Linked DNA regions of Homo sapiens: all the other regions are linked to region 1. Evidence: fine-mapped expression QTL. A gene starts in region 1. Each other region holds a variant in brackets. All regions are shown on one strand. Distances are between the middles of the regions.

Region 1 (4,239 bases):
CTCTTTGTTCACACAAAAGCCCAACTAACACATTTCTCAAACATAGTCCTTTTGTTAAGTGACACATGTCTATATATCACTAGCTGGTCAAATACCTGAATCATGACACTCTCTAGGGCTAAGTGGAAACAGGATGGGTTTCATTACCCTGGATAATGGCAATGACATCCCAAGGAAGGGGAGAGAATGGTCTTTAAGAAAGGAATTGTCAGTGCTATTAGTACATTAATAAATGCTTCTTTGAGTACAAAGGCCATAAAGGCAGACAGTAGGGTAATGAAACAGTTGAAGATATAAACACAACAAAGAAGCACTTTGTTGTTCGCTAACTCCAGTAGGAAAAACAAGTCTAATTAACTTTGGTAAATACAATTGCTTTAATAATGCCAGAATTCTGACTCTGTCCATCAACCTCTATAGGTAGGAGAGATGACCCCATATAACTGGTGTTACCAGGGAGGAGGAACTTGATACTTAAAAATGATAAAAATTCATCTACCATGTATCTTTTAAAAAAAAATAATTTTAGACTAATAAAGCAAATGTATCCCAGGGAGCAAAAGGGGTTCAGGTCACAAAATATTAGGGAAGTAGTAAAAATCTTTTTCTTTCTTTTTTTTTTTTTTTTTTGAGACGGAGTCTCGCTCTGTCGCCCAGGCTGGAGTGCAGTGGCGCGATCTCGGCTCACTGCAAGCTCTGCCTCCTGGGTTCACGCCATTCTCCTGCCTCAGCCTCCCGAGTAGCTGGGATTACAGGCGCCCGCCACCACGCCCGGCTAATTTTTTGTGTTTTTAGTAGAGACGGGTTTCACCGTGTTAGCCAGGATGGTCTCGATCTCCTGACCTCGTGATCCGCCCGCCTTGGCCTCCCAAAGTGCTGGGATTACAGGCGTGAGCCACGGCACCTGGCCAAAAATCTTTTTCTTTTAATAAAGACAATAGAACTATTCACTCAACAGGTATTTATTGGGTGCCTCCTGTGCATACAAGGTACTATGAAAACCAGGCACTATGAAGCCACCAATTAGGTTCAAGAATAAAGCAAGAGATGGTGTTTCTGACAAACTGACTTCAGTCGAAGTTTCACCTCTCATCATCTTGAACTGAGAAAAAAATGACTGAGAAGCAAAAGAGGAACCAGGAAGAGGGTGTTCCAAGGCTCCTTTGAAGATTAAGCCTCTATTTTATACTACAGTTAAAAAGTTTAATTCCAAAAGAGACAAAGCTCTAACCAACAAAGAAGTCTGGAAAAACAAAATCTTTCTTAGCCAATCATTCTAAGCACTTCTTACACTCACATACAAGAGCCGGAGCGCCCTCCAAAAGGCATGACGCAGGGGTTTCTCAACAATACCTCCTGCTCTTTGGTAATTAATCTCGCTTTAGATCAGGCCCCAACCGCCTCCTGGCGCCCACTAGATGCAAGGCCTGGGCTCAATGTTGTCGAAGGAGCTTGTTCTGTACGCAACCGCGACAGCATGGGAGGCAGAGAAGCCAATTTCTGTTTTATTTATTTGATCCTTAAGTTCAGGCAAACGAGGCCTCATGTGGGTGGAAGGCAGGGCTAAAGGGGGACAGTCGACTAGGGACAAACCCCAGTTTCTCCCAGATTCGGCCTGCTCATTTCCGACTGCACCTCCCCACACAGGACTATGATGAGAAAAAATTCCCCTGAAACTCGTTTCCAAGGGGGGTCCACCAAAGGTCACCCTCCACTCGCTCAGGCCGGAGGACACTGAAGCTGCTGCGAAAAGGAACACAAGGAGTTCCGCCGGGTCGGGGGCCTGACTCTGCAGCGCGGGGGGCGCCCATGCAACGTTCTCTGACCCGTGTGGGGGTCGTGCCTTTCCCCGCCCCGGCCTGCTAGCTCCTCACCGCCCGTTCCTCCCAAGGCGGGCCTCACGCACTTACCCCCGGTTAGGACCCTTAGGGATGAACCAAGGCACCAAGAAGCCGACGAAGCCCCAGAACACGCTCATCACAATGAGAGGCACAGTGAGGCCGTGATACGCCATGGTCGCCGCCTGAGCGCCAACCCCTACCCCGTCGCCTCACTCGGATCCCACCAGGAAGTGTCAATAGCTGACCGCGTGACCAGCGTGTGCAAGCCCCGCCTCCCGCGCCCCCACGTGACCCGCGCGCCGGCCTCCGCCCCTCGGGGAGCCCAGAGGCAGAGCCCCGCCTTCGCCTGGCTGTCTCCTGGCTGCAGCTCCTTGGAGGCATGTCGCTCACCCCAGAGCTAGGGATTCGGTCACCCGGGGCTCAGCAAAGTGTTCTGATGAGAACTTGGCCCTTTTAGACAAAGAGTGTAGTTATCTACAGCCTCATCTACTTATGCAACAGACATAGAGAACTTAACAATAGTTGTCCCTTACTATTCTGAATTCCCGTGTGCCTGGCACTGGGCCATGATCTTTAAGTTCATGAGCCCCAGGCCGGGTGCGGTGGCTCACGCCTGTAATCCCAGCACTTTGGCAGGCTGAGGCAGGCGGATCACTTGAGGTCAGGAGTTCGAGACCAGCCTGGCCAACATGGTGTAACCCTGTCTCTACTAAAAATACAAAAATTAGCTGGGTGTGGTGGTGCGCGCCTGTGGTCCCAGCTACTCAGGAGGCTGAGGCAGGAGAATCAATTGAACTCGGGAGGTGGAGGTTGCAGTGAGCCGAGATTGCGCCACTGCACTCCAGCCTGGGCAACAGAACAACACTCTGTCTCAAAAGAAAAAAAAAAAAGTGCATGAGCCCGTGTTGAACTCCTCACTTCAGCCTATGAGGTAATTGTAATTATTATCCCCACTTTGCAGTTGAAGAAACTGAGGCCCAGGGAAGAGGATAAGGATCTTGCCCAAAGTCACATAGTAAGTGGCAGGGCCAGGATTCAACCCCTGATTATCTGATTTTCAAGGCCAGAGCTCTTAACTAGCGCACCACTATTTATCTTGTGTGCTGTGCCAGGCTCTGGAGTTACAGAAGTCAATCAGGCACCCCTGAGGGAGTTCACATTCTGGGGAGCAGATGACCTTGCAAACAGGCGACTCAATGCAGTGTGAAAGTAAGTGGACGACCCTGCAAGGCTTTCTACCCAACTCGTCCTTGCTGAGCCTTGAAAGACAAGTAGAAATTAGCCAGAATGGTAAGAAGAAAAACAGGCCAGGCATGGTGGCTCACACCTGTAATCCCAGCACTTTGGGAGGCCGAGGCGGGCAGATCACCTGAGGTCAGTAGTTCAAGACTAGCCTGGGCAACATGGTGAAATCCCATCTCTACTAAAAATACAAAAATTGGCCAGGTATGCACCTGTAGTCCCAGCCACTCAGGAGGCTGAGGAACAAGAACCGCTTGAATCCCTGGGAGGCAGAGGTTATAATGAGCTGAGATCGCACCACTGCACTCCAGCCTTGGCGACAGAGTGAAACTCTGCCTCAAAAAAAAAAAAAAAAAGAAAGAAAGAAAAAGAAAGGTAAAACAGTTTTGTTTGTTTGTTTGTTTTTTGAGACAGGGCCTTGCTCTGTCACCCAGGCTGGAGTGCAGTGGTGCTCCATAGCTCACTGCTGCCTGGAACTCCCGGGCTCAAGCCATCCTTCTGCCTCAGCCTCCTGAGGAGCTGGGACTACAGGTGTGCACCACCACACCAGCTAATTTTTAAAATGTTTTGTAGAGACAGAGCCTCGCTATGTTGCCCCGGTGGGTCTTAAACTCCTGGCCTGAAGGGATCCTCCACCTCAGCCTCCCAAAGTGCCGGGATTACTGGCATAAGCCACCGTGCTGAGCTGATAAACAGGGCTTAGAACGCTTGCTGAGAATTTTCACATATGTTAGTTATAGTATGCGCCAAGCTTGGAATAGACAAGGAAGCCAGTTCTCAGAGAGGTTGAGGAGCTTGATGATAAAGCTTACAGGTGAAAGCAAGATAGAAAGCAGGTCTTTAAATGCAATGTGCTTTACCAGGGACCATGGTTTCCTTGCAGTAGCCACATTGCATTAACTCCTGATTTCTTTCATCAAGTAGAATGGATTCCTGTATTAAACGGGAAACTGGACCAATAATCTTCAACATCTGTACCAACTTTTCGGACATGATTCTAAGCCTTTAACCTGATCAGCAATGTAGAAAACTAGTTTGTCTCCTTTGTGCTCATAATGCTTCCCCAAAACTTAGCCCCAGCAGAAATCCTATGGTCCTTAAGTTCTAGCCCAAACACCGCCTTCTCCAAGACCCATTTCATCCTGTTAGCGCATCT
Region 2 (4,239 bases), 59 kb before region 1:
CTTCTTAATGGAAGGTATTAGAAGAACCATGTGACCTTTTGGGGCTAGGAACAACCATAGGCACTGAAAGGTTGAAGGTGTGGCCAAGAAACTAAGGCTACAAGACCGTCATCGATGGGTAAAGTGAGGAATTTTACCTCAGAAAAATGGAGCCTCAGTGACAGCCCTGAACCCTAAAGTCGGACTCCCCTGGGTTTAAACCCCATTTCCTCTAATTAACACTGTTAAATAAACCATTATAGGAGGCCATTGTTTTGGAATAAGCTCCTGCATTAGGCCCCGACAGACCAGGCTAAAAATCAAAATGGAGGGCCGGGCACGGTGGCTGACGCCTGTAATCCCAGCACTTTGGGAGGCTGAGGCAGGCGGATCACCTGAGGTCAGGAGTTCGAGACCAGCCCCAACATGGCGAAACCCCGTCTCTACTCAAAATACAAAATTAGCCGGGCGTGGTGGTGCATGCCTGTAATCTCAGCTACTCAGGAGGCCGAGGCAGGAGAATTGCTTGAAACTGGGAGGCGGAGGTTGCAGTGAGCCGAGATTGCGCCATTGCACTCCAGCCTGGGCAACAAGAGCGAAACTCCATCTCAAAAAATAAAAATAAAAAATAAAAATGGAGTCAGCCATGTTAAAGTTCCAGATCACCAAACCTGAAGAGTTTTCTGACCTTGCAAGAAATCAAGAGAGACAGACAACAACCAATTTCCCAAGAAGACCAGTTCCAATCTTCAATCAGTATGATAAGGGAAGTTCCTCTGCCTTAATCCTTTTTTTTTTTTTGAGACAGAGTCTCGCTCTGTCACCCAGGCTGGAGTGCCGTGGCGCGATCTCTGCTCACTGCAAGCTCCACCTCCCGGGTTCACGCCATTCTTCTGCCTCAGCCTCCTGAGTAGCTGGGACTACAGGCGCCCACCATCACACCCGGCTAATTTTTTTATATTTTTAGTAGAGACGGGGTTTCATCGTGTTAACCAGGATGGTCTCGATCTCCTGACCTCGTGATCCACCCGCCTCGGCCTCCCAAAGTGCTGGGATTACAGGCGTGAGCCACCGCGCCCGGCTGCCTTAATCCTTAAACCAAAAAGGTATCCTGAAGTAAACCAATGTTACTAACCAGTGACATTCCTATTGTTCTGTCTAAAAGTAACTAATATGCTCTGTTCCTTCCTTCTGCTTTCTCCAGCCCCTCTCTGTGTGTATAAAGCCAAGCTCTTCTGCTCAGCTCTTTGGGACTTACTGTTTTATGGAATGAAGTGTTGCCTGATTCTAGAATTGCAAATAAAGCCAATTGAAATCTTTAAACTAGTTTGTTATAATTTGGTTTTTTGACAACAGCTTGGAACATTGGGCCTCAATTTCTTCATCTATAAAATGAAGATAATAAATGTATTTAATAGGTTTTTGTGAGGATTAAATGAGTTAAAATATGTGAAACATTAAGAATAATATCTGTGGTCTGGGTGTGGTGGCTCACGCCTGTAATCCTAGCACTTTGGGAGGCCAAGGCGGGTGGATCACTTGAGGTCAGGAGTTCGAGACCAGCTTGACCAACATGGTGAAACCCCATCTCTACTAAAAATACAAAAATTAGCTGGGCATGGTGGTGCATGCCTGTAATCTCAACTACCTGGGAGGCTGAGGCAGGAGAATCACTTGAACCCCAGAGGTGGAAGTTGCAGTGAGCCGCGATCACACCATTGCACTCCAGCCTGGGTGACAAGAGCAGAACTACATCTCAAAAAAAAAAAAAAAAAAAAGGCCAGGCACGGTGGCTCACACCTGTAATCCCAGCACTTTGGGGAGGCTGACGCATGTGGATCACCTGAGGTTAGGAGTTCGAGACCAGCTTGACCAGCATGGTGAAACTCCATCTCTACTAAAAATACAAAAAATTAGCCAGGCGTGGTGACGCACATCGTAATCCCAGCTACTCGGGAGGCTGAGACAGGAGAATTGCTTGAACCCAGGAGTCGGAGGTTGCAGTGAGCCAAGCTCGTGCCACTGCACTCCAGCCTGGGCAACAGAG[C/T]GAGACTCTGTCTCAAAAAAAAAAAAAAAGTTAACATCCGTATGTGGAACTGCTATGTGTTAGGTATTATTGTTAGCCACAGGACTGATAATAATGATGAAAAAGTAGGAAAAAAAAAAACAGCTGTAAGCGGCTCCTAGAATCTCAGAAATGGGCAGCTTGGCTGTCAGGTGAGTGAGGGCTGGTTGGAGTCCCTGTAAACATACCAGCTGAAGGGCAGCCAAGCTGTTGGAATGAGAGTAGGTTTGATGTACTGTTGATCTGTTTATCCAGCTATAAAAGAGGTACAATATGTGTCCCACTTACTTCCTAGGATAATGTAATGTAAAATACTTAATAAGCTGGGGGTGAGGGTGGTGCCGACAGCTATCCAAACCAGGGCCATTTACAATGGCTGCCCCTTACAGAGTCCTCCTCTTCCCTTGTCCACCCTTAAGAGTGGGTGCCCCTCAGGCCTGCAGCTTAGACAGCCTCTCCTCTCACTCTACACACATTCTTCCTGGCCCTTATCCACACCCACAGCTTCCATTATCTCTGCATTGGTGCCCACATTCTAACCTCCAGCCTGGTCCTTCTTAACCTCCAGGCCCAAATAACAATTGCCCACTGGGGGTGTCCCTGCATGGACACCTCAGGTCCCTGCAACTCTTTGTCCACAGCTGGACTCCACTGTGTCCCTAAGCTTGAAACCATCTTTGCAAAGATTATGATCGTGACAGAAATCCAGCATTGCTGACTCCATCTTGCTTCTAACCTCACCAGCTGACCATCTTTGCTCATTCCTGTGTATAGGGCAAGAAAACTATGGGAGGAATTTAGTTTATAGTTTAACTTTAAACAAAGATAACGAACCTCTTCATCACACAGGGACTAAACTGCCTTCATAAAACTAACAGATTAACCACAAGGTCAGAATTATGGTCCAGGAGTCATGTAGCTGGAGGTCACAAGATTTGTAACCCCCTCAATTGTTCCTATAGATAACGTCACTATCGTAGAACCTACGGCTGGTGTTTGAGGTATCTTTCAGACCTTGTATTTTGATGGACCAGCTGGCGCCACTAGGATGGGCAACCCATAACCCAGAAACTGACCCAACTGGTCTTGTGACCCCCGACCCAGGAACTGACTTAGTGCAAGAAGACAACTTCAACCCTTTATAATTTCATCCCCTACTCAGTCAGCACTACCCATTCCCTAGCCACCTGCCCACCCAGCTTTCCTTTAAAAACTGTAGCCTCAGAGGGCCAAGCACGGTGGCTCACGCCTGTAATCCCAGCACTTTGGGAGGCTGAGGTGGGTGGATCACGAGGTCAGGAGATCGAGACTATCCTGGCTAACACGGTGAAACCCCATCTCTACTAAAAATACAAAAAAATTAGCTGGGAGTGGTGGCGGGCGCCTGTAGTCCCAGCTACTTGGGAGGCTGAGGCAGGACAATGGTGTGAACCCGGGAGCAGTGAGCTGAGATCGCACCACTGCACTCCAGCCTGGGTGACAGAGCAAGACTCCGTCTCAAAAACAAAACAAAACAAAACAAAAAAACTCTAGCCTCAGCAGGGCGCAGTGGCTGACACCTGTAATCCCAGCACTTTGGGAGGCCAAGGTGGGCGGATCGCGAGGTCAAGAGATCAAGACCATCCTGGCCAACATGGTGAAACCCTGTCTCTACTAAAAGTACAAAAATTAGCTGTGTGTGGTGGTGCGCACCTGTAGTCTCAGCTACGCGGGAGGCTGAGGCAGGAGAATCGCTTGAACCCAGGAAGCAGCGGTTGCAGTGAGCTGAGATCGCACCATGCACTCCAGCCTGGTGACAGAGTGAGAATCTGTCTCAAAAATAAAATTAAAATAAATAAAATAAAATAACTCTAGCCTCTGAATTCTCGGGGAGGCAGATTTGAGAATGATTTCCAGTCCTTCTGCTTGGCTGGCATTTTGATTATTAAATTCTTTTTCGGCCGGGTGCTGTGGCTCACGCCTGTAATCCCAGCACTTTGGGAGGCCGAGGCAGGCAGATCACAAGGTCAGGAGATCGAGACCATCCTGGCTAATGGGGTGAAACCCCGTCTCTACTAAAAATACAAAAAAGTCAGGCGTGGTGGCAGGCGCCTGTAGTTCCAGCTACTCAGGAGGCTGAGGCGGGAGAATGGCATGAACCCAGGAGGCAGAGCTTGCAGTGAGCGGAGCTTGCACCACTGCACTCCAGCCTGGGC
Region 3 (4,239 bases), 51 kb before region 1:
AGCGCAGGAACATTTTCGGTATCCTCTGAACGGGCTAAATGGAGGTCCTTCCAGTCTGGGCCCTGACAAACACTGGATGGAGTGTGGCAACGGTCAGGAAAATATGATTCACCAACATCCATCTCCGATGCCTAATCATGTTGTTAACAAACAGTTCTGCTATTAAGGGTGAGGTGACGAGAGAACATGTGCCTGGGTTTAGGTATTAATGGCACTGAACCTTCTCAAGAATTTAATAAATGAAACAACTAGGGCTCAAGGGTGAAGTGACTTCCTGAGCAAAGGGAATTTACCGAGTTTCCTCTCATAAAACCTGAGCTGATTTCGTCATTCCCACATTTCAACAATAGTATGATGGCAGGGCGCGGTGGCTCACACCTGTAATCCCAGCACTTTCGGAGACCAAGGTGGGCGGATCACGAGGTCAGGAGACCAGCCTGACCAACATGGTGAAACCCTGTCTCTACTAAAAATACAAAAATTAGTCGGGCGCGGTGGCAGGTGCCTGTAATCTCAGCTACTCAGGAGGCTGAGGCAGGAGAATTGCTTGAACCCGGGAGGCAGAGGTTGCAGTGAGCTGAGATCGCACCACTGCACTCCAGCCTGGGCGACAGAGTGAGACTCTGTCTCAAGAAAAAAAGAAAGAAAACATGGATCTTACTCCCCTGTCTAGCTCTGACCAACTGCATTAAGCTGGGCGAGAAATTCTCCCTGTCTGGGCTCAGCTTCCTTATCCATAAAATGATGGGGTTAGCCTATATCACCATAGCCCCCTTCAACTTCAAATCATCAATGTTTCATGTATTCCATGAAATTAGCTAATGTGGCCCTCCTGCTGGAAACGTAAAGCATGGAGTTGCCTAACAGACTGCGCAAAACAAAAGTAAAGAATGAAAAGAAACGAGAGCAGGAGAGTCACTTCAACTTGAAACTCACTTTGGTCATAAGAATAGCAAAGTAATGAGTTCAGACAGTTTGGGAGGAATAGAAAGTAGAAACTGCAAAACAGGAAATCCATTCTTGGCTGGCTGTCAAAAAGCCATGAGCTGGTGAAAATTTAGGTTCATTTTAATTTTTAATTTCTTAAAAGTAATAAAGCTCTCAAATTAGTGTATCGAGATGCCTGCTACTGAAATACAAAATTACTGTCTCCTGCCCCTGGCTTTTTAATCACTCTTGACTTCTTTAGTCCTATGTCTGAGGCTGTGATGGTTCCATCTCAGGAGCATTTGCTGCCTTGTTCTGCAGCTGGCAGGTAACCTTGAACTGCTCACCATGGTACCATCTTTAAGGACAATGCTCCAACACAACCTTATATTACAGTTCTATGTATACTAACCTTATCTCTCCAAATAGCTTGTGAACTTGCAGGGACTCCAAATTTACACATCTTTGATCCCTCCAGTGCCTTGGCTGCAGTAGGCACTCAAATAGTTACTGAACGATTAAGAAACGCACTTACCAGTCTTTTCAGGCATCTCAAGCTACATGGCAGGGTTTATATACTCAACCTAAGTTTAGACTACAAAATCATTTTTTAAAAAGGCATTATGTAGCGATAGAAAAGCTTATAAAAATGAACTTTACAAACACCGAGCCCAGATTTCCATAGAAAGGAGGAAAATATTTATTCCAAAAGATGGCAGAAAGAAGAAATTCATCCTGAAAGTATAGTTTGGTGCGATTCTGTTGAGATGGCTCTTCCCTCTGAACGTGCTCTCCTACTGACCACCCCACTGGAGTCTTGTTTGTCTTGCAGCAGTTTCTAAACACTTCACTGATTCCCACGTGAGAAGGCAGGAGCCATCTTCAAATCCACAGATTCCAAGGAGAGAGTAACGTATCTCTCAGAAGAACAGCATCTTCTATCTCAGAAGAGTACATAATCGTTTTGTGGAGTCGGCACAGTTCAGGTTATGGAGGCACGTAATTCACCAAAGTGCAAAAAAGGCAAAGGAAAACACGCTGCATTGTAGAATAAGGCATTCAAATGTGCTGTTAACGTTTAAGGCAGCTAATGGCCAAAACAGGCAAGTCAAGAAAAGTGGTCTGGTTTGGAGGTGATTTTGCATCTAGAAGGCATTCTCTTCTCGTGACCTGCAAAACAAAACCATTCTGGTAACTGGTCCTCATACATTCCTCAGGAAGGCAAAAAGTTAACATCGAGAAAGTTAACCAAGCCAACACTTTAAAATGCACAGATGCTCAACAAAATATGAAACACAGGATAATCAACTTGGTGCAAGTTTGGCCAGGTTTTGCAGGGCTGTGGCAAAAGGTCCAGTAACCAAGGACACTGCTGAAATGAGGAGCACAAGTAACACTCTATGTTACAGAAAGCAGGAAGAATGAAGCTGACTGAGATTGATTGTGCTGGAATCTAATGAATTCACCGCAGTTTCAAGAGTCTGTATTTTTCCCTTCCCTCTTATAGCATGGAGGGGAGGTTCCGCAGGCATGGCGAACTCTGCTCTGGGGCCAGGCTCCTGGGGAG[C/T]GGGCTCCTTGCATTGGTCTTGTACTGGAGGCTGCCCTGTAGCTTGCTCCCCGTTCTGGCTATCTCGAGTGTAGGTGACAAATGACACTTTTCTTTTTCTAGCAGCTTAAATTCAACACCATCTTTTTTTTTGTTTTGTTTTATTTTTGTTTTTTTCGGACACAGGGTCTTGCTCTGCCATCCAGGCTGGAGTGCAGTGGCGTGATCTCGGCTCACTGCAGTCTCAATCTCCTGAGCCCAAATGATCCTCCCATCTCAGCCTCCCAAGTAGCTGGAACTACAGGTGCACGCCAACACATTCGGCTAATTTTTATATTTTTTTGTAGAGACAGGGTTTCACCATGCTGCCCAGGTTGGGCTCTAACTCCTGGGCTCAAGCGTTGTGCCCATCCTCGCCTCCCAAAGTGCTGGGATTACAGGCATGAGCCATCATGCCCTAAACAGACTATATTTACAATGTACTAGGAAAACAACATCAGGCCAAGGAGTGGTAATTACCAGAGCTACTTGTTTCTTGTAGTAGTGTGAAAGCCTCATAATATCTTTCACTTAATCTAGGGATAATTTTCTGTTCTCTTCCTTAGGCCAGCAGAACAGCCTCTTTGTACAAGTATCAGTACCAGGCAGATTATAAATTTAGGCCAGGCGTGGTGGCTCACACCTGTAATCCCAGCACTTTGGGACGCCAAGGCGGGAAGATCACCTGAGGCCAGCCTGGGCAACATAGCGAGACTCTCTACAGCACGATGACACACACCAGTAGTCCCAGCTACTCCAGAAGCTGAGGTGGGAGGATCACTAGAGCTCAGGAGTTTGAGGTTACAGTGAGCTATGATCATGCCATTCTGCACCCCAGCCTAGGTGACAGAGCCTGACCCTGTCTCTAATCAATAAATAATATTTTTTTCAGACAGTCTCGCTCTCTCACCTGCCCTGGAGTGTAGTGGCCACAAACACAGCTCACTGCAGCCTCGACCTTCTGGACTCAAGCAATCTTCCTGCCTCAGCCTCCCAAGTAGCTGGGACTATAGGCCCACGCCATCATGCCCAGCTAATTTTTAAATTTTTCATAGAAATGGGGTCTTGCTATATTGCCCAGGCTGGTCTCAAACTCCTGGGCTCAGGTTTCCTCTTGCCTTGGCTTCCCAAAGTTCTGGGATTACAGGCATGAGCCATCACACCCAGCCAATAAAATAAATTTTATCTGAGAATACTGAAGTAGTGAATACATATGGTTTGTCTGTTAATTTTCCATGAAGAGCACACTGATTAGACTTCTTCATAGTACAGGCATTTTGTGACAAAGAAACAATCAAAAAAGGGAAAAATAAGCCTTCACTTTTGAAAAACCATATACAAATGGGGGATAGTTTTCACTCAAGATCAATGATACCAGTTTAAAATAAATGTAGGCCGGGCACAGTGGCTCACGTCTGTAATCCCAGCACTTTGGGAGGCCGAGGCAGGTGGATCACTTGAGGTCAGGAGTTCGAGATCAGCCTGGCCAGCATGGTAAAACCCCATCTCTACTAAAAATACAAAAAAATTAGCCAGCTGTAGTGGTGCATGCCTGTAGTCCCAGCTACCTGGGAGGCTAAGGCAAGGAGAATGGCTTGAACCCAGGAGGCGGAGGTTGCAGTGAGCTGAGATCACACCATTGGACTCCAGCCTGGGTGACAGAGCAAGACCCCATCTCAAAATAAATAAATAAATAAATAAATAAATAAATAAATAAATAAATAAAT

Direction of the effects. Positions count from the first base shown, and alleles are read on the strand shown. Sizes are in standard deviations (SD) of each study's normalised expression. Not every link is listed here.
As copies of C replace T in region 3, the expression in testis of the gene that starts at base 2,104 in region 1 goes up (small effect, 0.11 SD a copy in GTEx).

The links. PIP is the estimated chance that this variant, and not a neighbour inherited with it, causes the effect.
Region 2: its variant is the best candidate, but not a certain one, in a credible set for the expression of ATP6V0E1 in whole blood (TOPMed, PIP 0.68).
Region 3: its variant is the best candidate, but not a certain one, in a credible set for the expression of ATP6V0E1 in testis (GTEx, PIP 0.63).

The regions. Positions count from the first base shown.
Region 1 is chr5:172,981,636-172,985,874 of GRCh38, reverse strand. ATP6V0E1 (ATPase H+ transporting V0 subunit e1) reads right to left here and starts at 2,104. Exons shown (of 4, transcript NM_003945.4): 1 at 1,911-2,104. The coding sequence starts at 2,014. RefSeq lists a silencer at 2,050-2,229 and an enhancer at 1,995-2,289.
Region 2 is chr5:173,040,918-173,045,156 of GRCh38, reverse strand. No RefSeq gene overlaps it. Among named protein-coding and RNA genes, the nearest start is that of CREBRF, 13 kb to the left of the region's middle. The variant C/T (reference allele first, on the strand shown) is at 2,027.
Region 3 is chr5:173,032,257-173,036,495 of GRCh38, reverse strand. ATP6V0E1 (ATPase H+ transporting V0 subunit e1) reads right to left here. Exons shown (of 4, transcript NM_003945.4): 4 at 1,051-2,097. Among named protein-coding and RNA genes, the nearest start is that of SNORA74B, 14 kb to the right of the region's middle. The variant C/T (reference allele first, on the strand shown) is at 2,495.